Linked DNA regions of Homo sapiens. The protein of the gene in region 2 interacts with the protein of the main gene of each other region in a pairwise test. Each region holds a gene or a part of one and is shown on either strand. Other genes may lie near its edges.

Region 1 (10,834 bases), on a different chromosome or scaffold from region 2:
GTGGTTGCTGTGTGTGGCCATGACACCCTCCCCTGGCGTCCCTGTGCCCACAGAGAGAGCGCTGTACAGCATGGAATGTGCGTTCCACCCCCTGTTCAGTCTCACCAGTGGGGCCTGCCGGCTGGATTACCGCAGACCCGAGAACAGGTGAGTGCAGCTGCCCTGGAGGTGACGCAGCTCCCCTTCCCTTCTCCTGCGAGTGAGGCTGGGGGAGGTGCAGTGGGCACCTCATGGCTGCCCTCCAGGGTGGACCAGGGCCCACAGGTCCAGAGTGACCCACCTTCCTCTCTCTGGGCTTAAGGATAGAGGGATGGGATTGTCTCAGCCCAGGTTTACCTTTGTCTGTGGACATGCCTGATGCTACTGTGGAGGTCAGAGTGGGAGGTCTGCTGAGCCCAGGAGTTCAAGTCCAGCCTGGGCACCATAGTGAGACCCCCATCTCTTAAAAAAATAAAAATAAAAATAAATGTTTGTGTTAGAAGTGAGCCTGGCTGGGCACAGTGGTTCACGCCTGTAATCCCAGCACTTTGGGAGGCCGAGGTGGGAGGGTTGCTTGAGCCCAGGTGTCAAGACCAGTCTGAGCACCGTGGCAACATGCAGTCTCAAAACAGCATTTTTTTTTTTTTTTTTTTTTTGAGACGGAGTCTCACTCTGTCACCCAGGCCGGAGTGCAGGGGCGCGATCTCGGCTCACTGCAAGCTCCACCTCCCGGGTTCAAGCCATTCTCCTGCCTCAGGCTCCCGAGTAGCTGGGCCTACAGGCACGTGCCACAACGCCTGGCTAATTTTTTGTATTTTCTAGTAGAGACGAGGTTTCACTGTGTTGGCCAGGATGGTCTCCATCTCCTGACCTTGCGATCCACCCGCCTCGGCCTTCCAAAATGCTGGGATTACAGGCGTGAGCCACCGCGCCCGGCCACTACAGAACATTTTAAAAACTAGCTGCGCCTGGTGGCGCGTGCCTGTGGTCCCAGCTACTTGGGAGGTTGAGGCGAGAGTATCACTCAAGTGAGCCCAGGAGGTCGAGGCTGCAGTGAGCTGAGATGGTACCAGTGCACTCCAGCCTGGGCAGCAGAGTGAGACCTTGTCTCTCAAAAAAAAAAAAAGAAGAAGAAGAAGAAGTGAGCCTGAGAAACCAGATCTCCACAGTGGGCTCTGCAATTGCATTTCCTTCTATGTTTGGCTGAGAAAACCCATCCCTGGCAAGTTTAGAAGCTTTGGAAGGCTTTGCAGGTTTGACCTTAAATCAGTGAGGAGCTCAGAGTCAGCCTGACCCTCGCTCCCCTGTGCTGAGCGACCGCATGTGGAGGTCTCTCTTCTTTCAGATACTTCTGCCCCTAAAGCCATCCCTCTGGCATCAGGCCTCGCTGGTCAGACCTAGACTGGCTTCCGCCAGGCCTTCCCGCAGCCTGTCCTGTGGGCCCTTTGTGGAGCAGACCAGCTTCTGTCCGCTGTCCTGCCTCTCCTGTGTGCAGTGCCCTGTTTCTCTGGCCGCCCTGGGTTGTCTGCAGTGTGGGATCCGCTCCTACCCTCTCAGCCCTCCTGGCAAGCCAAGGTCCGCTGACCCGTTCTGCACAGATTGTCTGCACTGTGTGCTGGGTCTGAATTTCCTCCACTGGTTTTCTTTATGTTAGTTTTGTCTCTTCCAATGAAATTCTTAGTTCTTTGAAGTAGATTATAAAATATTAATATTTCCCGACGCGAAAGAGACAGTGGGCTGTTGATGGAAGTAGCAGCCCACCAGCATCCGAAAGTCACAGGGCTCCATGTATCCAGCCTGAGTGCTGTTAGCCACTGTTGAGATTGGAGGATAAATTAAGATCGTAATTGTAACAAGAGATTTTAACTCTCTTCCTGTAAATGATAAATAATAAACAAAAAAACAAGATAAAGATTTCAGCGGGGCGTGGTGGCTCACGCTTGTAATCTCAGCACTTTGGGAGACCGAGGCAGGTGGATCACAAGATCAGGAGATCGAGACCACGGTGAAACCCCGTCTCTACTAAAAATACAAAAAATCAGCTGGGTGTGGTGGCGGGTGCCTGTAGTCTCAGCTACTTGGAGAGGCTGAGGCAGGAGAATGGCATGAACCCAGGAGGCGGAGCTTGCAATGAGCCGAGCCGAGATAGCGCCACTGCACTCCAGCCTGGGTGACAGAGCGAGACTCCGTCTCAAAAAAAAAAAAAAGATTTCAAAGAAGTTTGATTTTCAGTATGCAAATTCGTGTATAACTCTGTAAAGGACAAGGAGAGCGCACACCTCCTCTCCAGACATGGATCTCTGTGTGCTGGGCACGTAGAAAATGCCAGCAGAACCCAGAGAGCAGAATGGGGGTGGAGCGGGTGCTGACCGGGGCGCTAAGCAGTGTGTGGGGTGGAGCGGGTGCTGACTGGGGCGCTGAGCAGTGTGTGGGGTGGAGCGGGTGTTGACTGGGGCGCTGAGCAGTGTGTGGGGTGGAGCGGGTGTTGACTGGGGCGCTGAGCAGTGTGTGGGGTGGAATGGGTGGTACTGGCCAGGACGCTGAGCAGAGGGCGGGGTGGAGTGGGTGCTGGCCGGGGCGCTGAGCAGAGAGCATTCTCCTTTGTGTCGTTGTAATTCATGTGGAACTATTTTGGATCTAGGAGCTTCTACCTGGCCCTCTACAAGCAGATGAGCTTCCTGGAGAAGCGAGGCTGCCCGCGCACGGCGCTGGAGTACTGCAAGCTCATCCTGAGGTGAGTGTCTGCTCAGGGCCAAGCCCGTCCACGCTCCCTGTCCTGGCTGCAGGCCCACTCTCAGCCTGACGATGCCCCTGTTCCCCTTTGCTCTGCTCTCTGTGCTGCCTCCGGAAGTCTCGAGCCGGATGAGGACCCCCTCTGCATGCTGCTGCTCATCGACCACCTGGCCTTGCGGGCCCGGAACTACGAGTACCTGATCCGCCTCTTCCAGGAGTGGGAGGTGGGTGCGAGCCTGGTGAGGCCCCGTGGAGGGACGGACACCTGCTTCTCCTTCTGTTTTCTTGGTTCAGTATCTGTGCGCTCAGGGGACGTTTGGGGATGAAACGATAATCGTCTGAGGGCAGAACCACGTCCTCCTGCCTTGTTTGTCTCCCTTGCCGCCTCTACGGAGTGGAATGTGGTTTTCCTAGGGACAGTACAGCAGCCTTATGTCAGAATCCTCATACGTGTGTACACATGCTCAAACGTGTGTACACATGCACACGTGTGCCTGCAAGGACTGTGATGCTGGTAATGATGAAAAACCGACAACTCCCGAGCTCCTCATGGGCAGTTCAGGAAGATGCAGCCGGGAGGTAGAAGGAGGGTTGGTTGCGTGGGGCTGACACAGGGACCCCCAGCACGTCTGTCCTGTTCCATGGGAAGAGTGTGAGTACAGCAGGAGAGACTTGAGCTCTGTCCCCAGTAACTCTAACACAGACACGTGTTGGAATGATAATTTCGGTGTATTGGGTTAGATATAACGTATTAATCTCACCTGTTTTGTCTTTAATGCAGCTCCCAGAAAATTTAAATTGGGCCGGGCATGGTGGCTCACGCCTGTAATCCCAGCACTTTGGGAGGCCGAGGCGGGCGGATCACCTGAGGTCAGGAGTTTGATACCAGCCTCAACATGGAGAAACCCTGTCTCTACTAAAAATACAAAATTAGCTGGGCGTGGTGGTGCATGCCTGTAATCCCAGCTACTCGGGAGGCTGAGGCAGGAGAATCGCTTGAACCTGGGAGGTGGAGGTTGCGGTGAGCCGAGATCGCGCCATTGCACTCCAGTCTGGGCAACCAGAGTGAAACTCCGTCTCAAAAAAAAAAAAAGAAAATTTAAATTGACACCTGGGCTCCCATTATGTTCCTATGGGGCAGCACTTATCTGGAAGGACACGGGCTTTGTAACGCTAACCTCCAGCAGGGCCTGGGGCTGGGGAGAAGGCGACAGCTCTTGACTTTCTCTGCTTCTGTGTTGAATTTTTTTCATAGCACATGTTCATGGATAATGAAAGTGGGTAAATTATTTTGAATTTTTAAGCATTTGGCATAGTTGGCCAGGAAGTCTCACCCCCAGGAATGTGGTTTATAGAAATTCCTGGAGCTCACAAAAATGTAGGTGCAGGGAAACCTCAGGGAGTCCCCCAAAATGGGGCTGCAGAAGAATGTTGATGATGGTGTTTAAGGTCACAAAACTGTGAGTCTGTGATCCCATTTTGATAGAAAAAAATGCAGTGAGTCACATGTCTACAATATGTGACATAGGCTGAGAAAGGCAAGAGAAACTGGCACGGTGGTAGACTGCTCGGAAACTCGCGTGGCGGGCTGCTCTCGGAAACTCGCGCGGCAGTGGGCTGCTCTCACAGACTCGCGCGGGGGTGGGCTGCTCTCGTCTGTAAATTTTCCACATTGAGAGCACCAACTGCTCAGCTTCAGAGAGGAGCCTGGGCGGCAGGTGGGACCCTCACTCCCCACGGTGTCCTCGCTCCGGCTCAGTCTACTTCTCAGGCCCTCCCACGTCCTCTGTATCTTCTGCATGCGGAAAGCCCCCCAGGTGGACGTTTTAAGTTATCTTTATGCTGAGTTAGGAAGAGGCCCTTGCGTTGCCTGCAGAATATACCTGCTCGGGGTAGGGCTCACTGGTGATGTCAGAGCGTCTGCAAACTCACATATTTTGTCTTTATGACTTAAGGCTCCACGCTCTGTTTCTTCGTCCCTCGTAGGCTCATCGGAACCTGTCCCAGCTCCCTAATTTTGCCTTCTCTGTTCCACTGGCGTATTTCCTGCTGAGCCAGCAGACAGACCTCCCTGAGTGTGAGCAGAGCTCTGCCAGGCAGAAGGCCTCTCTCCTGATACAGCAGGCGCTCACCATGTTCCCTGGAGGTGAGTGAGCGCTGTGTCTCGCCTGGGGTAGGGGTGTGTCCTGTCAGCCGTGGGGGCTGCTCTTCCTGGTGGTGGAGGCCAGGTCCCAGTCCTTCCCCACACTTGTAGAAACATGCATTCTCTGGTAGGGCCTGCAAACCTGCCCTACCAAACCTGAAAGAGGGTCGGCTCATCTCGGAACCCGCTGCGTGCCAAGCCAGGCACGAGGAGGTGGCAGGCATCCCGACCCCCGTGGGGCCTGTGTTCTAGAGTGCAGAGACAGAACTGGCTGGGAGGTGCGGGGCATTGGATTGTACCAGTGCTGGGGAGGAGAGCAAAGCAGGGGAAGGTCTCGGCAGCGCCGAGGTGTGGCCGAGAGGGTTGTGCTCTGCACCATGCTGGGATGCAGAATGGAGGCCTGTGCCGCCCAGATGGACTCAGCCTGCACAGCCGTGACCCCTGACTGCATCTGGGTAGCTTCGATCCACGCACATGTGGCGGGCACAGTGAGGCTGCCACCTGGTCAGACCTCGGGGCTGACCCTGCCTGACAGCATGTGTGAAATCCCTCTTTAAGATGGGCCTCCTCCGAGGAGCTGTGAGGGGTGAGGGTGAAATCCCTCCTTAAGACGAGCCTCCTCTGAGGGGCTGTGAGGGGTGAGGGTGAAATCCCTCCTTAAGACGGGCCTCCGGCCGGGCGCGGTGGCTCACGCCTGTAATCCTAGCACTTTGGGAGGCCGAGGTGGGCGGATCACGAGGTCAGGAGATCGAGACCATCCTGACTAACACGGTGAAACCACGTCTCTACTAAAAATACAAAAAATTAGCCGGGCGTGTTGGCGGGCACCTGTAGTCCCAGCTACTTGGGAGGCTGAGGCAGGAGAATGGCATGAACCCAGGAGGCAGAGCTTGCAGTGAGCCGAGATCGCGCCACTGCACTCCAGCCTGGGCAACATAGTGAGACTCCGTCTCAAAAAAAAAGAAAAAAAAAAAAAAGACGGGCCTCCTCCGAGGGGCTGTGAGGGGTGAGGGTGAAATCCCTCCTTAAGACGGGCCTCCTCCGAGGGGCTGTGAGGGGTGAGGGTGAAATCCCTCCTTAAGATGGGCCTCCTCCGAGGGGCTGTGAGGGGTGAGGGTGAAATCCCTCCTTAAGACGGGCCTCCGGCCGGGCGCGGTGGCTCACGCCTGTAATCCTAGCACTTTGGGAGGCCGAGGTGGGCGGATCACGAGGTCAGGAGATCGAGACCATCCTGACTAACACGGTGAAACCACGTCTCTACTAAAAATACAAAAAATTAGCCGGGCGTGTTGGCGGGCACCTGTAGTCCCAGCTACTTGGGAGGCTGAGGCAGGAGAATGGCATGAACCCAGGAGGCAGAGCTTGCAGTGAGCCGAGATCGCGCCACTGCACTCCAGCCTGGGCAACATAGTGAGACTCCGTCTCAAAAAAAAAGAAAAAAAAAAAAAAGACGGGCCTCCTCCGAGGGGCTGTGAGGGGTGAGGGTGAAATCCCTCCTTAAGACGGGCCTCCTCCGAGGGGCTGTGAGGGGTGAGGGTGAAATCCCTCCTTAAGATGGGCCTCCTCCGAGGGGCTGTGAGGGGTGAGGGTGAAATCCCTCCTTAAGACGGGCCTCCGGCCGGGCGCGGTGGCTCACGCCTGTAATCCTAGCACTTTGGGAGGCCGAGGTGGGCGGATCACGAGGTCAGGAGATCGAGACCATCCTGACTAACACGGTGAAACCACGTCTCTACTAAAAATACAAAAAATTAGCCGGGCGTGTTGGCCGGCACCTGTAGTCCCAGCTACTTGGGAGGCTGAGGCAGGAGAATGGCATGAACCCAGGAGGCAGAGCTTGCAGTGAGCCGAGATCGCGCCACTGCACTCCAGCCTGGGCAACATAGCGAGACTCCGTCTCAAAAAAAAAGAAAAAAAAAAAAAGACGGGCCTCCTCCGAGGGGCTGTGAGGGGTGAGGGTGAAATCCCTCCTTAAGACGGGCCTCCTCCGAGGGGCGGTGAGGGGTGAGGGTTATTTGCGTGCAGCTAGTATACACACATTACGTGACCACTCATCGCCTATTAGGATGTCCTGGAAGCAGCATCCCTTTCTCGGTTCTGTGGGTTTCCAGGGCTCTGTCTGGGCCCCGAGGAGGCCCACGGCGTGGGGTTGGGCAGCTTCTAGCACAGGCAGAAACGTGCCCCCCAGAGGGGCCTGGCCAGGCCTCAGTCTGCTCGCTGACCCCAAAAGTTTCGTCCCCTGTGTCTAAGAAGCACCTTTGTCCTCCTCTGGGGCTGCATGCAGCTGGCCATATGCTCCACCAGTGCAGCCGTGTCTGGAAACGCGGCTGGGAGGCCCTGTCCTTTGTGGCAGAGCTGTGCTGCTGTGTCACAGGCTGTAGCGTCAGCACCTCCCTTGAAGGCAGGTGGGCTGCCAAGAAGCCGCTGCCACTTACCCCAGAACACTGGAGATCACTGCAGGCTCTGCCCTCGGGGCCCGTTCCCCTACATGGCGGCCTCTGCCCTCAACCTGCAGTGCTGGCTCTTCCACTGGGCACAGGTGGCCTCCGCTCCCACCAGCCTGCCATGGGGTCCAGTCTTTGTGATTAAAACATCCAACCGGCCGGGCACGGTGGCTCACGCCTGTAATCCCAGCACTTTGGGAGGCCGAGGCAGGAGGATCGCTTGAGCATAGGAGTTCGAGACCAGCCTGGTCAACACGGTGAAACCCTTTCTCTACCAAAAATATAAAAATTAGCCGGGTGTGGTGGCGGACGCCTGTAATCCCAGCACTTTCGGAGGCTGAGGCAGGTGGATCACCTGAGGTCAAGAGTTCAAGACCAGCCTGGCCAGCATGGTGAAACCCTGTCTCTACTAAACATACAAAAATTAACCGGGGCGTGGTAGTGTGCGCCTGTGATCCCAGCTACTCGGGAGGCTGAGGCAGGAGAATCGCTTGAGCCTGGGAGGTGGAGGTTGCAGTGAGCCGAGATTTCGCCAACGCACTCCAGCCTGAGCAACAGAGTGAGACCCTGTCTCAGAAAAACAAAAAAAAACCCAACCCCATGTGTGTGGAGGGTGGTGGGTGAGTCTTCCCTTGGATGCAAATGGGGGCCCTGGCAGCCTCCTTGGGGCTGGTGTGAAGGAGACCCCCAGCCTCAGACCCTGGGCACGCCAGCAGCAGCAACTCAGAATACCACCCGGAAGCAAGCCGCTGGCCCTGCAGACTCTCCACCTTAGAACAGCTGTGTCTGTGACAAGGACCTCGCTGTGTCCCTTACTGCCTTGGGGGCTAGGAGTGGCTGGGGTGTGTGCTGAGGGCCCCCACAGAGCCTCCGCTTCCCCTGCAGTCCTCCTGCCCCTGCTCGAGTCTTGCAGTGTGCGGCCCGACGCCAGCGTTTCCAGTCACCGCTTCTTTGGACCCAATGCTGAAATAAGGTAAAGAGTGGCTGGTGGTGCCCATCTGTGGGTGCCTGTGGGTTCGGAGCCTGGGAGCCATTTTCACTCATCCTGAGAGGCCCTGAGGGACCTGCTTCCAGCAGCAGGAGGGGCTGTGGTGGCGGCCTCGGGGACTGTCATTTGACATGGGACGGCTCTGGAGCCCTCATCTGTGTGGAAAAGTCCAGGTGGGACAGCTGAGCAGCCTCCAGCTTAAAAACGAGGCTCATATAAAGAGGGTGCCAGGCGTGGCGGCACATGCCTGTAATCTCAGCTTTTTGGGAGGCCGGCTTGTGCCTGGGAGGTCAAAGGTACAGTGAGCTGTGTTTGTGCTGCTGCACTCCAGCCTGGGTGATGGTGAGACCCCGTCTCAAAAAACAAAATAAACAAAGAGGGAGCAAACACAGGAGAAAGTGCACGCCTTGGGGTCATCCCCTGGCCCTCCAGGGCTCGCCCTGTGTGCACGCAGATGGACCCGCCCTGGGTGCATTTTCACATTTCTGTGACGTCAGTCCTGCTTCCTAAAGAACATAACCTGCCCAACAGGCTCACGGCACATACCTGTGTGCCCCAGCCCCACGCCCTCAGGCCAGCAGCCCAGGGGCCTCCTTTCACTCCAGGCCACAGGGCACTCCCTGGACCCCCCGTCTGCCCATCCATGGGGCTCTGCCAGCCTCGAGGCAGGCTGTGGTCTGAAGAGGGGTTCTGCTCAGAGCCCTTGCTCTCCCCCAGCCAGCCCCCTGCCCTGAGCCAGCTGGTGAACCTGTACCTTGGGAGGTCACACTTTCTCTGGAAAGAGCCCGCCACCATGAGCTGGCTGGAGGAGAACGTCCACGAGGTTCTGCAAGCAGTGGACGCCGGGGACCCAGCCGTGGAAGCCTGTGAGAACCGGTGAGCTAGGGGTTGACACAAGCCCTGCCACGCCCCCTCCTCAGGGACCCTCATCCCAGACACGGGGGCCTCGCATTCGGGAGGCGAGAAGGGCTGTGAGCAGCTTGGCCTCCCTTGCTGTGGGGCCTGTGTGGAGCCTACAAGACAGCGCACAGCCCCTGGCGTGTCCCAGAGGCTTCCTGGGAGGCAGCTGTGGTGATCAGCGCAGGGTACCGAGCTGCTGTTCCCGGGTGCCTCGGGCTGGAGTGGTGCCTTCGGGTCTTGCAGTGTTTCCACATGAGCTGTGAGATGATGACGAGTCTCTCACAGCAGCATCTTGGGAGTAAAGAAATCTGGCAGAGACGAGAAAGAGTCTCCTGTCCTGTGTGTGAACACTTCGGAGGCTCATGCCCTAATATGCTGCAACTGACAGGCATCCCCTTGCTGTTCTTGTCTCGTTTGTCTGCGCCCTTGGCCCTGTGCTAGTTCTGTGCATCAGCACCGTGGCTCTGTGCAGTGGTGTGGCCAGGCTCAGGACCGCCTGGGAGTGGTGCCCATTTGCATCTCCACAGTGAAGTCTGTGTGCCGCGGACATGAGGTGTGCCCGGGGGTGCCCAAGAGGCGCTGGTGCCCCCAGCCGCTGGCAGTCATGGGCCCGTCCGCGTGTCTGCTGTCCCCACTGGACTGGACATTCTCATGGACAGGAGCATTTTGTTCCCTGTACTGCTCTCCAAGAGCGATTTCCAGCAGGGACCAGTGCCTGTGCCTGTAGCCGTAGCAGTGACGATGGTGACACACCCAGGTGTCCCTTCATGGAGATGAACTCAGTGACTTCCCACAAGAAGCCACTGGCTACGGCTCTCATCGTTCTTGTTCTTTGGATGAAGAGGCTGAGTCACTGGCCATGTGGCTGGGATTGGTCCCCAGAGGCTCCCCAGCCGCAGGCCAGGGACCAGCCATGGTGCCTCTGCTCGAGAGTAAAGTGTACAGTTTTTGCAGCCACCAGAGATGCAGCGAGATGCCTCGTGCTGGGTGGGGGTGGGGGCCGAGGCTCCATGGCGGTTACCATTTCATTTGCTGTGCTTTATCTGCTGTGCCTTGTTTCTCCCCGGCCCTAGGCGGAAGGTGCTCTACCAGCGTGCACCCAGGAATATCCACCGCCATGTGATCCTCTCTGAGATCAAGGAAGCCGTCGCTGCCCTGCCCCCGGTAAGGGAGAAAGGCTGAAATGGGAGCTCTGTGTAAGCCGGTCACATGCACGTCCCTTCTGCTCCGGGCGGTCCACATGCAGGCGTGCGTGGTGCGGGCTCCCTCAGCAGCCCAGCCCCGCCACGGCAGGGGCAGGGTCTAGTGCAGAGGGCTCCTCCTTTCCTGGCAGCCCGGGTTCGGATGCTTGTTGTTTTGAGAGAGAAATCCTTTGGGGCTCAGAGCACAAGCTGAGTCGTCACCGTGGTGAGCTGCTCCATCCGTGGTCTTGTGAGCGCGTGGTGCGGCTGCTGGGGGATTCTCTGTAGTCGTGGGGTGTAGTCCTGCTCTGACGCCTCCTGTGCTGGAGGTGCCGTTTCTGTCTCAAAACCTAAGGAGTTTGTACTGTTGTTAAGGGATAAGATAGAACGAGTGAGAAAACCAGCAAGTCAGAGGGTCGCAGGACCGTGGACCGTCCACTGGGGACAGCTTAGTGCCTCCTGGTTTAAC
Region 2 (10,834 bases):
TCTAACAGAAAAAGATTGGTTAGGTTAATTATGCTCCTTATAGAATGGACTACTATGTAATCATTTATTTAAGACTTTGGAAAATACAGTGTATGAAATGAAAATAGATTTGTTGAATATTATCCCAGTTTTTAAAATTGTGTGTGTTTGTGTGTGTGCCTGTGTGTGTGTGTGTGTGTGTGTGTCTTGGGAGTGAAATTATGAGCAGTATCTATTTCTTTTACACTTAAAAAAATTCCAGAATTTTTACAGTAGTCATTTATTGTATTTGTAATCAAGATGAAAATCTGAGGCCAGGCGTGGTGGCTTATGCCTTTAATCTCAGCACTTTGGGAGGCTGAGGCGGGCAGATCACTTGAGGCCAGGAGTTCAAAACCAGCCTGGGCAACATGGCGAAACCCTGTCTCTGCTAAAAATACAAAAATTAGCCAGGCGTGGTGGCAGGAGCCTGTAATCCCAGCTACTCAGAGGCTGAGGCACGAGAATTGCTTGAACCTGGGAGGCAGAGTGAGCTAAGATTGCGCCACTGCACTCCAGCCTGGGCGACAAAGTGAGACTCCGTCTCAAAAAAAAAAAGAAAAAGAAAAAGAAAAAAAAAAGATGAAAATCTGGGTGTTCTTTTTAAAAAGTATACTTAAAAGAGTTGAAAAAATGGAATTCTTCTAGCTTGTCTTAAAGAAATGTTTACTTTTCATTTGTTCTAACTTTTTCATTTTTCAGATGGGAAAACTGAGATCCTGAGAAAATTCGTATTCACACAGCTAATTAGTAGCAGCTTTCCTAGCTCCTAGGACAGTCCTTCCTAGTCTTCATGCTACCTCTTCCAGCAACCAGATTTCATTTAGCCAACACAAGTTAATGAAAAATTTTGTTCACAGCTCGAGCTAATCCAAGATATGGGGTTCCATGTCATTTACTGAATGAAATGGATGCAGCTAACATTGAACTGCAAACCAAAAGGTAATTTTAAATTGCTTTTAGAGTTTGACTAGTATTCCGGAGAATAAAGATCTGATTTAGGCCTTAAGCATTCAGTAATGAAAATTAAAAAGAAAAAAAATAGTCAACTTGTTAATGCAAGTGTCTGTTTGGCTGCTGAATTTTTATAGTGAGGGTAACTTTAACTCTGAAATTATCCCTTATGTGTGAGAGTGAATTAAATGGTGACATATAAAACAGCCATTGCTAAGTAGGGATCGAAGCCTAACAAGAGTAGAGAAATCAGTGAGCACATAGTTGGGCTGAATGAATTGTATCCTGGCCTGGCCAGATTATTTCCTTGGGTCCAAAGAGAGCCTGCCATGAAAATCACCCCTCATAGGTAAGTAGTTGTAGCGAACTGGCATGTAGTGAGAGAGGATCAGTGGTGGGCAGATTTTCAAAAGGAGGGAAATATGGATGCTATAACCTATTGAATGCAATGCTGATCTTGGGGGAAAGCCTATGATGGATTCTTACTTAAAGAGATGGTTTGTGAGAACTTTATGATCTCAGCATTCTCTTTTGGGGCCTCACCTTTGACTCTGAACTGCTTCTTTATTTGTGCTCTGTTAGGGTCAATAGGGTATTGGGTTAGGAAAATGGATGTTACCGTGATCTCCTTGTGGACCAAACTGCCTGATTATGTGACAGGGTGTATTTGACATTTTTATCATTGGCTTGGAGCTGGGGGAAAAAAGTACAGTGAATGACACGAGCAAAGAAACAACAAAAACCAAGATACCAAAAAGATTAAAACTTAACAGAGCGAAATATCTTAAGTCTAAAAAATAACCTGCATAAGTGGTCTGGACTAGCAGTTGTTATTTTAAAAAAATAAAAATAAAAAAATAAAAGGCAGAGCCTGAGGGGCTGTCATCAACCCGCACTAAGGTCTTTCGTGTGGTTGTGCTCTCTGACCATGTTCATTGAAGTGTCCTGAAGTACGTGAGTTGCGTGATAAGCCTCATTCCAGCTCCACATTGGTCAGACCCTACCTGTGTTTCGCACTGGCTTCGAGTCAGCCAAGTGGATTCAGAGAAGAGCAGCCAACACCAGGCTGCTGCCAAGGACTTTTAGCCTGGATAATGTGGTCTCGGGAGGTTCATGCTACTGGCTTCAAATATTTCATGGGGCCGGTCGCAGTGGCTCACGTCTGTAATCCCAGCAATTTAGGAGGCTGAGGCAAATGGATCACCTGAGATCAGGAGTTCAAGACCAGCCTGGTCAACATGGTGAAACCCCATCTCTACCAAAAATACAAAAATTAGCCAGGCATGGTGGCACACACATGTAATCCCAGCTACTCAGGAGGCTGAGGCAGAAGAATCGCTTGAACCTAGGAGGTAGAGGTTGTAGTGAGCCAAGATCGCAGCACTGCACTCCAGCCTTGGCGACAGAGTGAGACTCTGTCTCAAAAAAAAAAAAAAAATCATGGGAGAATGTGCAAAATCTAGTGGAAATAAGGATGATAGATGACATGGAAGTAAATCTGCTACTTAACATAATGATGTAAGCAGGTCTCTAGCATTTTGTTCATAACTATAATATAATCTCAGAATTAGAAGATTTCAAGTGTCAGCCTTTGTTCAGAGAAATGGAGTTAACATTGCAGCCTATGTTAAAACAGTTTTCTCTTGGAATTCATGGTGACAGAACTGAATTTTTGCTATTGACTGAAAAATTAAAGTGACTAATTGTGGCACATAGAAGAAAAATTGTTACTTTGGTGGGATGGAGAACTTTATTGTAAGCCAGATATCTTTGGTTTGAGATAAAACACAGTGTCTGTTATAAAAACACAGTATTTATGTATTTTTGTGCCTCTTTAAAGGGCAGAATGTGATTCTGCAAACAATACTTTTGAATTGCATCTTCACCTGGGCCCTCAGTATCATTTCTTCAATGGGGCTCTGCACCCAGTAGTCTCTCAAACAGAAAGCGTGTGGGATTTGACCTTTGATAAAAGAAAAACTTTAGGAGATCTCCGGCAGTCAATATTTCAGGTAATATCGCCTTACTTCCTCTTAATTCAGACATCGAGCACCATCTCCAGCTAGACTCTCCATTTCATTCTGTTTAGGATACAACTTTATTTTTCAAAGCTGCTTAGGAAGATCTGACATCTGCCACTTCATAGAGGGTTGACCCAAATCTTCTCTCCTAAGTCTTTTAGAGAGGCTTTTCTCCACAGCTCCTACCAGCAGCTTTTCAGGTAGACAATCAGGCCTGGTACATTTTATTTGAGGGGAAGAAAGAGTATAAAGTTGTCTCTTTTTTAGAAAATAAATGAAAGCAAATTGCCTTTCAAAGAGAGTGAAAAGATAAAGATGAGCATGTTGTGTAAAACTGAGAACTGCTGAACAAATAAACGCAACTAACTTTATACCCTGTAGTATAGAACAGTATTTATTAATAATATTCTTAAGTGAAGGAAAGTATCTGCTAGTCTAGAGTAAAAACAGTGCTGTAGTCTCCAAGTCATTTTTCTAGGTATGTTTTAATGATGATAGCAACAGCAGTGTTCTTTATTTTACTTACACTGCTTTCATATAAATCATGTGATTTGGTTCTTTAATCTCATGAAGACACATTAGCCCCATTTTGAAGTTGAGGCAGTGTGATTTAAAGAGACTCAATGTCTTGCCTGTGGTCCTAAATCTAGTTGATGGAGCTGGGACTCTGTCCCTCTTCTCCCTACTCTTCATCTAGGGTTTTTTTCTCCTAATCACCCTCCTGCTCCACACTACTTTCTGATCAAGGAAAAGGGAGATAGAAAATGTTAGCTTTTTTGTGTTTTTTCCCAGAAATTAGTTAAATGAATTTTCTGAAAAATCCTATTACCAAAACTATTAGCTTTCTTTCAATTTTCTTCTGCTAAGAAAAGCAAAGCAATTTCCCTTTTAACCTTAGTTGATTTGAAGTTTTTTAAATACTAGATCAGTGTCAGGATTTCTAAAGTTGTCTAATATTTCTGAACTTTTTCATTAGAAATTTATTTCTGAGCCAATTCTGGCACTGTTGATACAGGCAGATGTGGGAATCTGAACCTAGTCTAGGGGGATATTTTAAATGGAAAGGATCTTATTCACTTTGTAAGTGTGAGGTACACTCCAGTCTGTGTGTTTTGGTGTTTTAAGTGTATATGCCTACTAACTATTCTCTTAGAAGGAAGCCACTGACAAGAGGCTAGAAAACTTAATTCACAGCAAACTAATCACTTGTAAATAAGAAGTTTCTTTTTAAGAAAATACCTTATGGTATTGTAGAGAATGACTAGATAGGAATGACTTTTATGGTGATATTATTTTGGTGACCTTGCCACAGTGCTCAGACTCTCAGATCTAGAAACTTAAAGAGCAAAGCCATGGTAATCTATTAAGTAAACTGGTAATGCACCTTTATAAATTTGCAATGGGAGACATTCCTTTCAAGCAGCTAGAAGATGAGTGTGTGCTAGAGTCAGGGCTACATTTCCCTCAACATTGCTAATTCTGCAAATTAGTCTTGCTCTTTTGAGTAAAAATTCCTAGGCTGACATGCTCATCAACTTGCTTTCTGAGAAAAGTGCTCTTCATATATATTAAGCAGAATTGTTTAGATGGTTGTTGTGCCCTTTGTGTAGGCCAGAATTCTTCACTCAGGAATGGAGGAGATTAGCCGTCTTTGGCTTTGACTAATTTAACAAGTGATGCCTTCTTTTCAAGTTTTCGGTGTTGGGTGGGGGTGAGAGTATTCATTTGCTTGCTCTCTGTGTCATCTTCATATGTGAGTTGGCACAGTAACCTGGAAAGGTGATATGTATATGTCACTTTTCAACATTCTCTTTTCCTTCATTAATATTCTTCAGCTGTTAGAATTTTGGGAAGGAGACATGGTTCTTAGTGTTGCAAAGCTTGTACCAGCAGGACTTCACATTTACCAGTCACTTGGCGGTAAGATAAATATGAAAACATAGCAACTCACTCTATATATCTACATTTTTGTCCGGCTCACCTGCGATTTTCTACTCTTTGTCAGTCCTTCCCCACCTACTACTTTCTTAACTAAGTAGATTATCTTCACACTGTAAGTTTTCCAAAAGAAATAAAATATCCACGTTTTAATGTATCCAGTTTATATAATGTGTGAAATTCTTCTAACATGGAAACATTTTATTTTTTCTGAAATTAAGGCTACCTCTACTAAAATTTCTTGAAAAGCTTTAGAATTTTTTATATTGACACATATTGTTGAACAACATAGTTTCAAACCATCTGAATCATATTTATGTGACTTGATTTTCTGCCCAGTTCTCAGCTTCAGATTTTGTAGTAAAACAAGAAATACTTTGAGAGTTTGAAAGCATTTACTTCCTTTAAATAGCAGGAAAACAATGAGAATTAACAGTAGCGGCAGTAACATCTAATTTGGGCCAAAATCTGTAATAGGTGTTTTATGTTAATTATCTCACTTGATTTTCATAAAATTCTTTTATCTCCATTTCATAAATGAGAAAACTGAAGCTGAGAGACTTGAAGCACACAATACAGCTTGTGTTATGGACATATCGGTGGAGTTGGGACCATTCCATGCTTAAGCCTAACTCCTGTTTCCAATGTCATGTGCCTCAAGTACACTTGACCTTTGGATTATCTCTCTTGTCCTGCCACCATGCTCACAAGCTTTTGTCACAACGTTTTAAAGAAAAATTACAATGAAATAATGTCAATAGAATAAAAATAATTACTACTTTTTAAATTTTCCTTAGTGAAAATACTTTTTCAAACAAATATTTGTCTCAGCTCTTTCTTTAGCTCAGTTGTTTCTGATGGTCATGATGAATGGTCTCACTGGTGATCTCTTTCTAGGGGATGAACTGACACTGTGTGAAACTGAAATTGCTGATGGGGAAGACATCTTTGTGTGGAATGGGGTGGAGGTAAAAAAAATTACTGAAGAAATATTCGTGATAATTTTGGATGTTTTAAAAGTCATCGTAATGGCCGGGCATGGTGGCTCATGCCTGTAATCCCAGCACTTTGGGAGGGCGAGGCAGGCAGATCACCTGAGGTCAGGAATTCAAGACCAGCCTGGCCATCATAGTGAAGCCCCATCTCTATTAAAAATACAAAAATTAGCTAGGCATGGTAGCGTATGCCTGTAATCCCAGTGACTTGGGAGGCTGAGGCAGGCGAATCGCTTGAACCCGGAAAGTGGAGGTTGCTGTGAGCTGAGATTACACCACTGCACTCCAGCCTGGGTGACAGGGCAAGACTCCATCTCAAAAAAAAAGTCATTGTAATGAAATTTTATTCAGCCTATGTGAGGGCAATTAGATATTAGAAAACTACTGAAATGCTTGATAAATGTTAGGGACAATCAGTGCTAGTTGTACGCCAAGGAGACATTTCTTGAGCGCCTCCGTTATACCAGGTTGTGCGTCAGATGCTAGATCAAAGGCCAGTCAGTTGATCTGTGTCCTTTTAGGCCCTCGTCGTGTGAAGAACTGCACCATACGTGCTGGAGTAGGGGGTCTGTGCATAGTGCCTGTGGGAATTTAGAAGAGTGAGAATCTATACTGAGTTGGGGAGTGGGGGTGGTTTGGAGGTAGAGAGTGAATTTTCTATCTCTAGAAGGCGGCCAGGAGCACTTCAGCCACTCTGTGAACTGACCTTGGCCAATCTGGCTTCATCACCACCCATGATAACTCATAAATGTCTATCTCCAGTCTATCATAGATTTCTCCTAAAAAAATAAAAGATAAGAAAGTTTCAAAAGAAAAATCTGAAGTTGTTCCTCTGATGCTTAACAGACATTTGTGAAAATTTTATTTTACTTGGAAAAAATGAGGGTTGTTCTCTAAGAGTAATCTTTTACCATGTTATGTTGACGGTGTTGGCAAATATCAGCTGTACTAATGGTTGTCTTGGTATGATTGCAGGTTGGTGGAGTCCACATTCAAACTGGTATTGACTGCGAACCTCTACTTTTAAATGTTCTTCATCTAGACACAAGCAGTGATGGAGAAAAGTGTTGTCAGGTGATAGAATCTCCACATGTCTTTCCAGCTAATGCAGAAGTGGGCACTGTCCTCACAGCCTTAGCAATCCCAGCAGGTGTCATCTTCATCAACAGTGCTGGATGTCCAGGTGGGGAGGGTTGGACGGCCATCCCCAAGGAAGACATGAGGAAGACGTTCAGGGAGCAAGGGCTCAGAAATGGAAGCTCAATTTTAATTCAGGATTCTCATGATGATAACAGGTAACTCGCTAACAAGAGAAAAAGGATTTCTAAAAGTCATTTTAATTACAGTACCACCCAGCAGAACTCTAAAGCTTTATTTTAGTGACAAGAGTTGAATGTTTCTTTATTTCTAGACATTATGTTCTAAATATTGCATACAGGAATGTTTTAGGTTATGTAACTTAGAGAAAAACATGATTTTTTGTAAAGGGACTTTTTGGTAAATGTGGTGAGAAAATAATATAAGTATCCCTGATTTTCTAGACTGTATAGAGTATCAATTAGTTGGCTGTAATGCAAAAGTTATCAAGTGAATTCTGATTAGTGCCAGTTATAAAACCGAAGGAAATTCTCACAGAGAAAACTGAAAATTTTCCTGAAGAAGGTATTAACATTATGGCTAAATTGTTTCTGGATATTTTGTTTCAGGAGACCCATAAGACAACTCATTGTTTCCTTATAATCCGTTCTGTGACTCTTGAGAACCCAGTTGCCCAAATAGAGCAGTTACGTGGCGAATTACCCCCATGAATCCTGTGGTCACATTTAAAGCTGCATCTCTTTGTCATCTATGTCTGTGACAGTACATTGCTGTAGTCAATGTGTCATACACTGTAACTGCAATATTTCCATATATTGAAGACTTCAAGCTCCCTGTTTTCTCAGTGCTACAGATTTACTTAGATTGCAGGATGTCTGTATCATTATTTATAGTGGCTTTGATGCAGAGAAGCAGAGCACTTGTGGACCGTTTCTTTCGTAGTACACTTACCACTATTACTCTTTTGGACAGGGGTTTTGCAGACATTCCCTACCTTGTTTATAAGAACTGTATTTCCTTTATAAAAGGCAGTATGCATTTATTGGGACTGGGGAAATACAAAAGTGAAGACAGAAGGGACCCAAAACAGTATCCGTCTTCTCAGCATGCAGTGTTAATCACTGTTAGCATTTGGGTGCCTTTCTTTTTAAACCTAATAATGATTATTTTGTAGATAAGTAGTTGTATCCTGCTTTCCATTACCCCTGCCCAACCTTGAGATTTGTAGACTCTTTATAAACTGCCTTGAATGGCTACATAGTAATCTATGTGACATTATAGTTTGCCTAACTGTGCTCCTAGGCAAGTCAGTAGGCTGTAGTGGGACCTTGGGCAAGGTATTTCGTCTTTCTCTGCTCAGTCTTCTTGTCTGTCAAATAGGGATAATAACTAGTGCCAACTTCATAGACTTGAGAGGATTGAAAGAGTTGAGTGCTTACAAAGTACACACAGTAAGTGCTAAATGTTTTAGTTAATATATTACGGTCATTGTCATAATTATCATACAGTTTTTCACTATTTTAAAGTAGTCTTCATGGAGCATCTTGTGCTTCATACTTTGTTTTATTTGGGATTGCTAGCTTAAGGTAGGAGCTCAGAATGGAATAACTGCAATAAAGAGTAGAATGATGTTTCAGAGCTCTAATGTACATTCCCAAAGAGGACTTCGGCAAGCCCATTAATGCTTCTGTGTGAATTAGAAAGAAGGCACCTCTTCAGGACCCTTTACTACTATCTGTGGGAAAATGTTAGAACAAGATACTCTACTGCCGGCTGCAATTATAAAACAAAACTCTATGTAGAAATGCAGTATACAATATATATGCCATGTGTGACACTCCTTAGATGTGGCCCTTTTGTGCAGTGTCAGTCTACAGACTGCACATGGCTGCCCTGTTGTTAAATGAAATCTAGATCCAGTGGGGTAGGCTCCTGGCATAGGTGCTCTTTTAAAGCTCCCCTAGTGATTTGCAGGGTGCAGGCAGAAGCCAGCAACTGTTTACTTACAGAAGTTCTCTGTGAAAAATGTGGCAACAAATTATGTAGGTAAATCAAAGAATATTTGGAGTCATGAATATAGACTCTATAGACTACTGCCTAACATTACCCTGCAAAGGTAGCCCACTTATCATAGAGACGACTCAGTAGAACTTGGTCACCTCTAATTAGTCACATTAAGTGACACATGCAGAGTTTTGGAAGTGATGCCTAAGGAAAGGTATTAATTTCTGATCTTTTCTTTTTACCTACAGCTTGTTGACCAAGGAAGAGAAATGGGTCACTAGTATGAATGAGATTGACTGGCTCCACGTTAAAAATTTATGCCAGTTAGAATCTGAAGAGAAGCAAGTTAAAATATCAGCAACTGTTAACACAGTGAGTAGAATATAATTAAAGGTTGGCTGATAGATTTTCAGTTAACAGAATTTTATTTAGAAAACAATACCTTAATCTTTCAGAACAGTTGTCTCAATAGACTTCAGCTCTTAGGAAGTCAGCTTTTTATTTAACATTTGATTATTGCTTGTTTACCTATGTTAGCCCTTAGCATATTTCAAGAAAATACGTGCCTTTTAAAATTTCCTCCAAAGCCTAGAATTAGAATGTGGGAGTTACTCATTTAGTTAGTTCATGGAATTCTCTGGCTCCCACAAAATGAAATTCTTTGGCTTCCTTGAAAATGCTGTTTTCAAGGGTCTTTTCTGTATTTTTTTTAAGCCAAGTATACATATGTTTTGGTTTTGTGTTGTGGACTTCTGTTTTTTAAATTTATCTTAAATTGTTTTACATTATACTCTGTTTTTCTGTAAAGCCAGGTGTTCTTAAAAGGAACTCTTTCAGTTCTCCATTTGAAGACTAGTTTCGTTAAACACCATCTCAGGAAATACCTTTTTATATTTATGTAGTCTCAATTCATTATGGGTTTTTTTTCTATAACAAGTTGAAACTTACTAGAATGTTGTTTTCTTTTATATAAATATTATAATTTCTTAAAGTGTGTTAATATTTACACTGTATGATGAATACACTAAAGTTCAGAAGATCTAGTACCTTGACCCTAAGTGAGAGACTTTGGTGAAGTCCTTTATGACTCACTCTGTTTCTTCTTTTCACAATGTGGGGTGCTGTGGGAGGACAGATTGTCTGACATCGGTTTTACTCCTAAATTTACAAGATTTTGTATCCTAGAGGAAATTAGGTTAAACTGAAAAAGGGAAAGAATCTAAAATAAAGTCATTTAAACAGAAATTTTAAATAGTGCACTCGGGCTGATAGTATACATTTTTATTTATGCTTACTGGCCCCACATTCATCATTCCTGACATAGAGAAATGTGATTGCCTGCAGTTTATTTTGTTTGCTTTCATGAGAAAAGTTACTGGTTTGTCAGCTTATTGCCTTTCAGCTAGTTTCTTTAGTTTCTGTAGTTTTCTACAGTTTCTGTAGTTTTCTGTAGGTGTCCTTTCTGTTCCAATTAACATCAATTTGGTAAAAACTTAACTATGAAGTCCTAAGTTTTTGCTTTTGATCTTATAAAAGGATTTCAGGGATGGAAAAATTTCCAGTGGGCAAAAACTACTAAATGTCAGGTAATTAATATCTCAAATAATTTGTTTATGCACACAGTGACAATCCTCATTTTCATCTCCTCCCATTTTTTACAACTTAGTCATTATTTTATTTCTCTGTTTTAGATGGTGTTTGATATTCGAATTAAAGCCATAAAGGAATTAAAATTAATGAAGGAACTAGGTAATCATTTACATTTTCTTTTCGGTTCTTAGTTTAGCTTAATTTTGGTCTTGAATT
Region 3 (7,000 bases), on a different chromosome or scaffold from region 2:
GCGGAGGTTGCAGTGAGCCGAGATCGCGCCACTGCACTCCAGCCTGGGCAACAGAGCGAGACTCCGTCTCGAAAAATAAAAAATAAAAAAAATAAAAAATAACAACAACAACAACAACAAAAATGAACTCTGACTAAGTCTCACATTCTATATAAGCAAAAATAAAATGAATCAGACTTAAGTGTAAAAAAAAATTATAAAATCTTCTGGATCTAGAGCTAGGCAAAAAGTTATTAGGCTTGACACCAAAAGCAAGATCCATTAAAAACAAACAAACAACAAAAAAAAACACTCACTGAGCGCTGGGTGCAGTGGCATGCACCTGTAATCCTAGCTACTTGGGAGGCTGAGGCAGGAGAATTGCTTGAACCGAGGAGTTGGAGACCAGCCTGGGCAACATAATGAGATCCCATCTAAAAAAAAAAACTCACTAAACTAGACTTTATAAACTAGACTTAATAAATTAGACTTTATAAAAAAATTTTTTTAAATTGCTATATGGGCTGGGCATAGTGGCTCACGTCTGTAAAGTAATCTTAGCACTTTGGGAGGCTGAGGTGGGAAAATCACTTGAGCACAGGAGTTGGAGACCAGCCTAGGCAACACAGTGCCATCCATCTCTATGAAAAAATTTTTTAAATTAGCTGGGCTTTGTGGCGTGTACCCATAGTCCTACGTACTTGGAAGGCTGAGGCAGGAGGATCACTTGAGCCCAGGAGGTTGAGGCTGCACTGAGCCGTGGTTGCACCACTGTGCTCCAGCCAGGGTGACAGAGTGAGGCCTTTCTCAAAAAATTAAAAAAAAAAAAGGATTAAAAAATTTTGCTCTGCAAAAGACCCTTTTAAGAGGATGAAAAAAAGCTACAAAGTGGGGAAAAACATTTGTAAGCCACATGTCTGACAAAGGAATAATACTAGAATACATACAGAACTCTGAAACATTGAGCTGTTTAATACGTAAAACTCACTTTTGTGAGTTTTTGTCAAGGTTAATGAGCTGCTCCTCCCAAAAGCACTCCTTGGCTTCTGAGCAAAAAAAGCCAGACACAGGCCAGGCACGGTGGCTCACGCCTGTAATCCCAGCACTTTGGGAGGCCGAGACGGGCAAATCACCTGAGGTCGGGAGTTTGAGACCAGCTTGACCAACATGGAGAAATCCCATCTCTACTAAAAATACAAAATAAGTCAGGCGTGGTGGCACATGCGGGTAATCCCAGCTACTTGGGAGGCTGAGGCAGGAGAATCGCATGAACCTGGGAGGCGGAGGTTGTGATGAGCCAAGATTGCGCCATTGCACTCCAGCCTGGGCAACAACAGTGAAACTCTGTCTCAAAATAAAAAAAAGAAAAAAAAAAGATCTGTGCAGTTTACTGTATGTAATTATATCATAAAGCCCCATGATCTTTCTACCACTCGACATAACCACCCTGAGGAGTATGTGACCTCTGAAAAATACCAACTACAAAGAACAAACTACAAACGACTACAAAGACTAGTAAGGACTACAGTAAAAAAAAAAAAAATTATTTTTTTGAGACGGAGTTTTGCTCTTTTGCCCAGGCTGGAATGAGGTGGTGCTATCTCGGATCACTGCAACCTCCACCCACTGGGTTCAAGAGATTCTCCTGCCTCAGCCTCCCGAGTAGCTGGGATTACAGGTGCATGCCACCATGCCCAGCTAATTTTGTATTTTTAGTAGAGATGGGTTTTCGTCATGTTGGCCAGGCTGGTCTTGAACTCCTGACCTCAGGTGATCCACCTGCCTCAGCCTCCCAAAGTGCTGGGATTGCAGGCATGAGCCACCGCACCCAGCCCAGTAAAGATTTTGAACAAGATACTCTATATTGGTGGAAGCTTCCATTCTCAGCATCTTGTTTTGTTATTATTATTATTATTATTTGAGACATGCTCTCACCCTGTCACTGAGGCTAGAGTGTGGTGGCATGATCACGGCTCACTGCAGCCTCGACTTCCTGGGCTCAAGCAATCCTCCTGCCTCAGTCCCCCAGGAAGCTGGAACCACAAGCACATGCCACCACACCCAACTAATTTGTAAAAAGTATTATCTGTAGAGATGGGGTCTCCCTATGTTGCCCAGGCTGGTCTCAAACTTCTGGGCTCAAGCGATCCTCCCACCTCAGCCTCCCAAAGTGCTGAGTTATAGGTGTGAGCCACTGTGCCTGGCCCATTTTCAGCATCTTGAATGGAACCACTGGTGTGTTTGTAAGTATGTACAGAAAATACATAAGAAGTGATAATTTGGGTTTAGAAAACTCTCTCAAGAAGACATAGAAGGGCCAGTGCGGTGGGTCACACCTGTAATCCCAGCACTTTGGGAGGCTGAGTTGGGAGGATCGCTTGAGCCCAGCAGTTTGAGACCACCTGGGGCAACAAAGTGGAAATCTGTCTCTACCAAAACAAAATACAAAAAATTTAGCAAGGCATGGTGGTACACACCTGTAATCCCAGCTATTTGGGAGGCAGAGGTGGGCACATCACCTGAGACTGGGAGGTCAAGGCTACAGTGAGCCGTGATCACGCCACTGCACTCCATCCCAGGTGACAGAGTAGCCTGAAATACTTGGAGTCAGGAGGCATCCATGCTGCAGGTTTTCTTTTGGAATAGCTGGACAGAGACCCCAGGAGAAGAGTGCCTAGGAATCAGGGATGGGGGCTGAGTCAAGACACTTGTCCCTTGATAGGATTACTAAAATACATACAAGGCTAGATATTAGTTTTCTAGGAAGAAAACCTTTGAGGTAGCCAGGTGCACATGGTGGTTTGTGCTTGTAATCCCAGCTACTCAGGAGGCTGAGGAAGTAGGATTGTTTGAGTCCAGTAATCCCAGCATTTTGGAAGGCCAAGGCAGGCGGATCACGAGGTCAGGAGTTTGAGACCAGCCTGGCCAACATAGTGAAACCCCATCTCCACTAAAAATACAAAAAATTAGCTGGGCGTGGTGGCAGGTGTCTGTAATCCCAGCTACTTGGGAGGCTGAGGCAGGAGAATTGCTGAACCCAGGAGGCGGAGGTTACAGTGAGCCCAGATCGCGCCACTGTACTCCAGCCTGGTGATAGTGCGAGACTCCGTCTCAAAAAAAAAAAAAAGAAAAAGAAAAACATATTTAAGTGTGTGTGTGCGTGTGTGTGTATAAAACAAAACTTGATGCTTCTTTTTGCTCAGGGGACTACAGAATTACAGAATGTCAGGTTAGGAAGCTGCATACTCAGGGTTCATAAGAGACCAAGTGAAATTTCACACACGTATGAAGGCTGCATACTTCAAATCACAGCCTTATTGGGTTTAGGGATCAGGCTCAAACTCCAGCCTCTTTAGGAATCACAGAATCTTCTCCCAAAGGTAGAGCACATCTTGTCCAAACAGCCTATTTTACAAACAAACTAAGGTCTGCGGAGGTTCAGTAACTTGCCTAAAGCCACACTAAGTTAGGACTGGTAGGACTGGGATTTGCTTTCCCGTCAACTAACTCCCAAATGGAGGAATACATGCATGCCACTGAGGTTTATAAAGCACGATTTGTAAGCTAGAAATACAACATGTTTAGTTCTAAAGGGAGAGGCACTGGCAGAATTGTTCCTACCCTTCGTTATTAGAACAGTCCCATGGCAAGGCCAACCCAGAAGATGAAATTACAGCCTGCATGTTGGCCTGTTGAATGCATGACCAGCTTTATTCCCATCTTCAGCATAAGCTCAGGCCTGTCCACCCATCTCCAGCAGCCCCACCTTTGCTTAGGTAGTTTACCCTGCTGGAACCTTCTCCCTCCTACTCCCCAGACACAGTTACTATACTGTGGGCCTTGGGGTCACTGTAAGAATGGGCCAAGCCATCATTACACAAGCATTCCTGTAAAATAGCTCACCACTAGGACAGGTTGCTCACTGACCCATGCAATGGGATGAACATGTCCTTGGCATCAAACTGTGTGTTAAGCATTTTCTTATGGGACCTCATTTAACCCTCACAATGCACTATTTATACATAAGAAAAGTCAAGGCCAGGCGTGTGGCTCACACCTGTAATCCCAGCACTTTGGGAGGTGGCTGAGGCAGGCAGGTAACTTAAGCTCAGGAGTTCAAGACCAGCCTGGGCAACATGGCAAAACACCATCTCTACAAAAAAATACAAAAATTAGTTGGGTGTAGTGACGCAGGCCTGTAGTCCCAGCTACTGGGGAGGCTGAGATAGGAGGATCACTCAAGAGTTCGAGGCTGTAGTGAGCTGTGATCGTGCCACTGCACTCAGCCTAGGTGACAGAGCGAGACCTTGTCTCCACCAAAAAAAGAAAGAAAGAAAAAAAAAGTCAAGTTTAACTTAAGTAAAAAAACTACTCAGCTAGAAAGTGGTTCATTTGAATCCAGATCTGCCTGGCTCCAAAGTTTCATCTGTAGATTGAAGTAAAATAGAGGCCGGGATCAGCAGCTCACCCCTATAATCCCAGCACTTGAGGCCAAGGCAGGAGGATGGCTTGAGGCAGGGGTTTGAGACCAACCTGGGCAATACTTCATAACCCCATCTCTACAAAAAATTTTAAAATGATCTGGGTATGGTGGCACTTGCCTGTAGTCCTAGCTACTTGGGAGGCTGAGATGGGAGGAATGCTTGAGCCCAGAAGTTTGAGATTATAGCAAGCTATGATGGCACCAGGGTTCACAACGATTGAAGCACAAGTGAGATTTCACGGAAGTACAAAGGCTTCAAACTGCAGACCTAACCTTTCAGGGATCAGGTTCTAACCCCAGGCTCTTTGGGAAGTCTCCCCCTCCCATTTCCACAAACCAGATTCCTCCTGCTTTGATTGACATCTTTAATGGCACTGCAAACTTTCTGCCTTGAATCAGTGTGTCTATGGACTTCCCCTGTAGACTCCTTCTAGAAAAACAGCTCTGTCAATGAAAACAAACTCATTCATCTTTTTATTACCTTTACATGCTTCACAGTACACTGCAGCAATGTACAGCATTCAAAGCAGAGGAGGGTAACTAAAACAGATGTGTACCATTCACTGATTCCAGCAGCCAAGTTCATAGTTATTTTCTACTGTTACATTTAGACTGGAGGATCCCCAGTGGAATGCATAGGGATATCGTTACCAAATCATTCATAAATCATGTTTTGGAAATTATGGGAAGAGTCTATTTCTTGTAACTATTTATGGTTACCACCCATAACACTTCCAGGCTTAATACAAGGCGCTTGTATAGAAACAGCATTTTGTAGTTTTCCATGTGTGTGTAAACTGTTGGTCACAAGAACAGAAAAATAGCTCAGCAGCTGTCTGAGCTATGTGATGTATGCAAAATGTGTCAAGCCCAGAGAGACATGAGACTTCAGTCATGCTCCTTCCTTCCCAGGGACAATTGTTTAAAGGCATTTTGCTCCTAACTAGCTGCTTTACCCATTACTTTCATGTTAACAAAATTTGTGATACAAAGAACAAAGTATAATGAATCAATAGCTTATATCATTTTAATGTACATTCTTGGTAAATCACTTAGGAACTGTCTCTTCTTTTCATTTATTTATTTATTTAGAGACAGAGTCTCGCTCTGTCGCCCAGGTTGGAGTGCAGTGGCACAATCTCGGCTCACTGCAACCTTCTCCTCCCGGGTTTAAGCGATTCTCCTGCCTCAGCCTCCCAAGTAGCTGAAACTACAGGCGCCCGCCACCATGCCCAGCTAATTTTGTATTTTTAGTAGAGACAGGGTTTCACCATATTGGCCAGGCTGGTCTCGAACTCCTGACCTTGTGATCTGCCTGCCTCGGCCTCCCAAAGTGCCGGGATTACAGGTGTGAGCCACTGCACCCAGCCTTCTTTTCTTTTAAAAACCCACTTGTAACTGCTGCTCATCAGATCATATAATCAGGGCAACTTGAGTCTATGCTCCCGGTTGCAGTCTGCAAACATGGCCCAAATAAATCTCTCTACTTATATTACTTTGGCCTCAGATTTTTCCCTTAGGTCCACAGTCTTATATGATCATAGCCATCCCCATGGAGGGTGGTCCACAAAGCCCCCTTACCCCTCTGTCCCCACCATCAGCACCAAGTCACTGGATCCCCAGCTCTGAGCACCACACCTAATTCTGAGAGGCTTTAGCCACTGATCTCTCTGCCTTCCCAGCTCTGAGTGTTCTCAACACCCTGGATGCAGCTGCCTCATAGGCAGCCCCAGGCCAGCTTTAGGGCAGGTCTGGGGGAAGCCTGCTCAGCCCAGGTTTCTCCTTGAATTCCTTCCTTGGAGGTTCACTGAAGCCCCAGACTAAGCCATCCACCTTCTTTGGGGAAGGAGGCACATAGATAGGGGGAAGGAGTTGGTCGTGAGGAGTTCTGGAGAGCAAAGGACAGCTTTTTCTTTCCTTCTGGGGAGAAAGACTCTGGGCCGGGCGTGGTGGCTCACGCCTGTAATCCCAGCACTTTAGGAGGCTGAGGCAGGTGGATTACTTGAGTTCAGGAGTTTGAGACTAGTCTGACCAACATGGTGAAACCCCATCTCCACTAAAAATACAAAATTAGCTGGGCGGGTGGCGCACACCGGTAATCCCAGCTACTTGGGAGGCTGAGGCAGGAGAACTGCTTGAACCCAGGAGGCGGAGGTTACAGTGACCTGAGATCATGCCATTGCACTCCAGCCTGGGGCAACAAGAGCGAAATTCCACCTCAAATAAAAAAAAAAGAAAAAGAGAAAGACTCTGAACAGCCCTGCGTCAAACGGAGAGGAGGACGTCCAGCAGACCCAAGGACTGGACATGTAGCTGGGTGGAAGTCACCATCTTGGCAATCAGCTAGGAGAAATAATTGGGTTCCAGAAAGAGGCCACCAATCAGGGGATCCTCTCCTACTTTCAAATCAGTCAGAATTCCCACCCAGACACCAGTCAAGGGTTTCCAGGGATCAGCCCTGCCTCAAAGGAAAGGCTGAGAACAAGAGCAAGCTTGTTTTATTCATCAGCCCAACAACACAGCAAGAAGGTAGTAAGT

What was found.
Region 1: the proteins of USP40 (region 2) and TCF25 interact in a two-hybrid assay, tested with the Homo sapiens proteins (one study listed by BioGRID).
Region 3: the proteins of USP40 (region 2) and ACSF2 interact in a two-hybrid assay, tested with the Homo sapiens proteins (one study listed by BioGRID).

The regions. Positions count from the first base shown.
Region 1 is NC_000016.10:89,895,937-89,906,770, forward strand, and holds part of TCF25 (ribosome quality control complex subunit TCF25), read left to right. Parts: intron 1-53; coding exon 54-147; intron 148-2,620; coding exon 2,621-2,713; intron 2,714-2,830; coding exon 2,831-2,936; intron 2,937-4,698; coding exon 4,699-4,858; intron 4,859-8,181; coding exon 8,182-8,269; intron 8,270-9,001; coding exon 9,002-9,160; intron 9,161-10,257; coding exon 10,258-10,348; intron 10,349-10,834. UniProt on the Homo sapiens protein: Component of the ribosome quality control complex (RQC), a ribosome-associated complex that mediates ubiquitination and extraction of incompletely synthesized nascent chains for proteasomal degradation.
Region 2 is NC_000002.12:233,519,557-233,530,390, reverse strand, and holds part of USP40 (ubiquitin carboxyl-terminal hydrolase 40), read left to right. Parts: intron 1-878; coding exon 879-960; intron 961-2,812; coding exon 2,813-2,984; intron 2,985-4,828; coding exon 4,829-4,913; intron 4,914-5,828; coding exon 5,829-5,899; intron 5,900-6,901; coding exon 6,902-7,221; intron 7,222-9,276; coding exon 9,277-9,400; intron 9,401-10,719; coding exon 10,720-10,777; intron 10,778-10,834. UniProt on the Homo sapiens protein: May be catalytically inactive.
Region 3 is NC_000017.11:50,429,218-50,436,217, reverse strand, and holds part of ACSF2 (medium-chain acyl-CoA ligase ACSF2, mitochondrial isoform 2 precursor), read right to left. Parts: intron 1-7,000. UniProt on the Homo sapiens protein: Acyl-CoA synthases catalyze the initial reaction in fatty acid metabolism, by forming a thioester with CoA. Has some preference toward medium-chain substrates. Plays a role in adipocyte differentiation.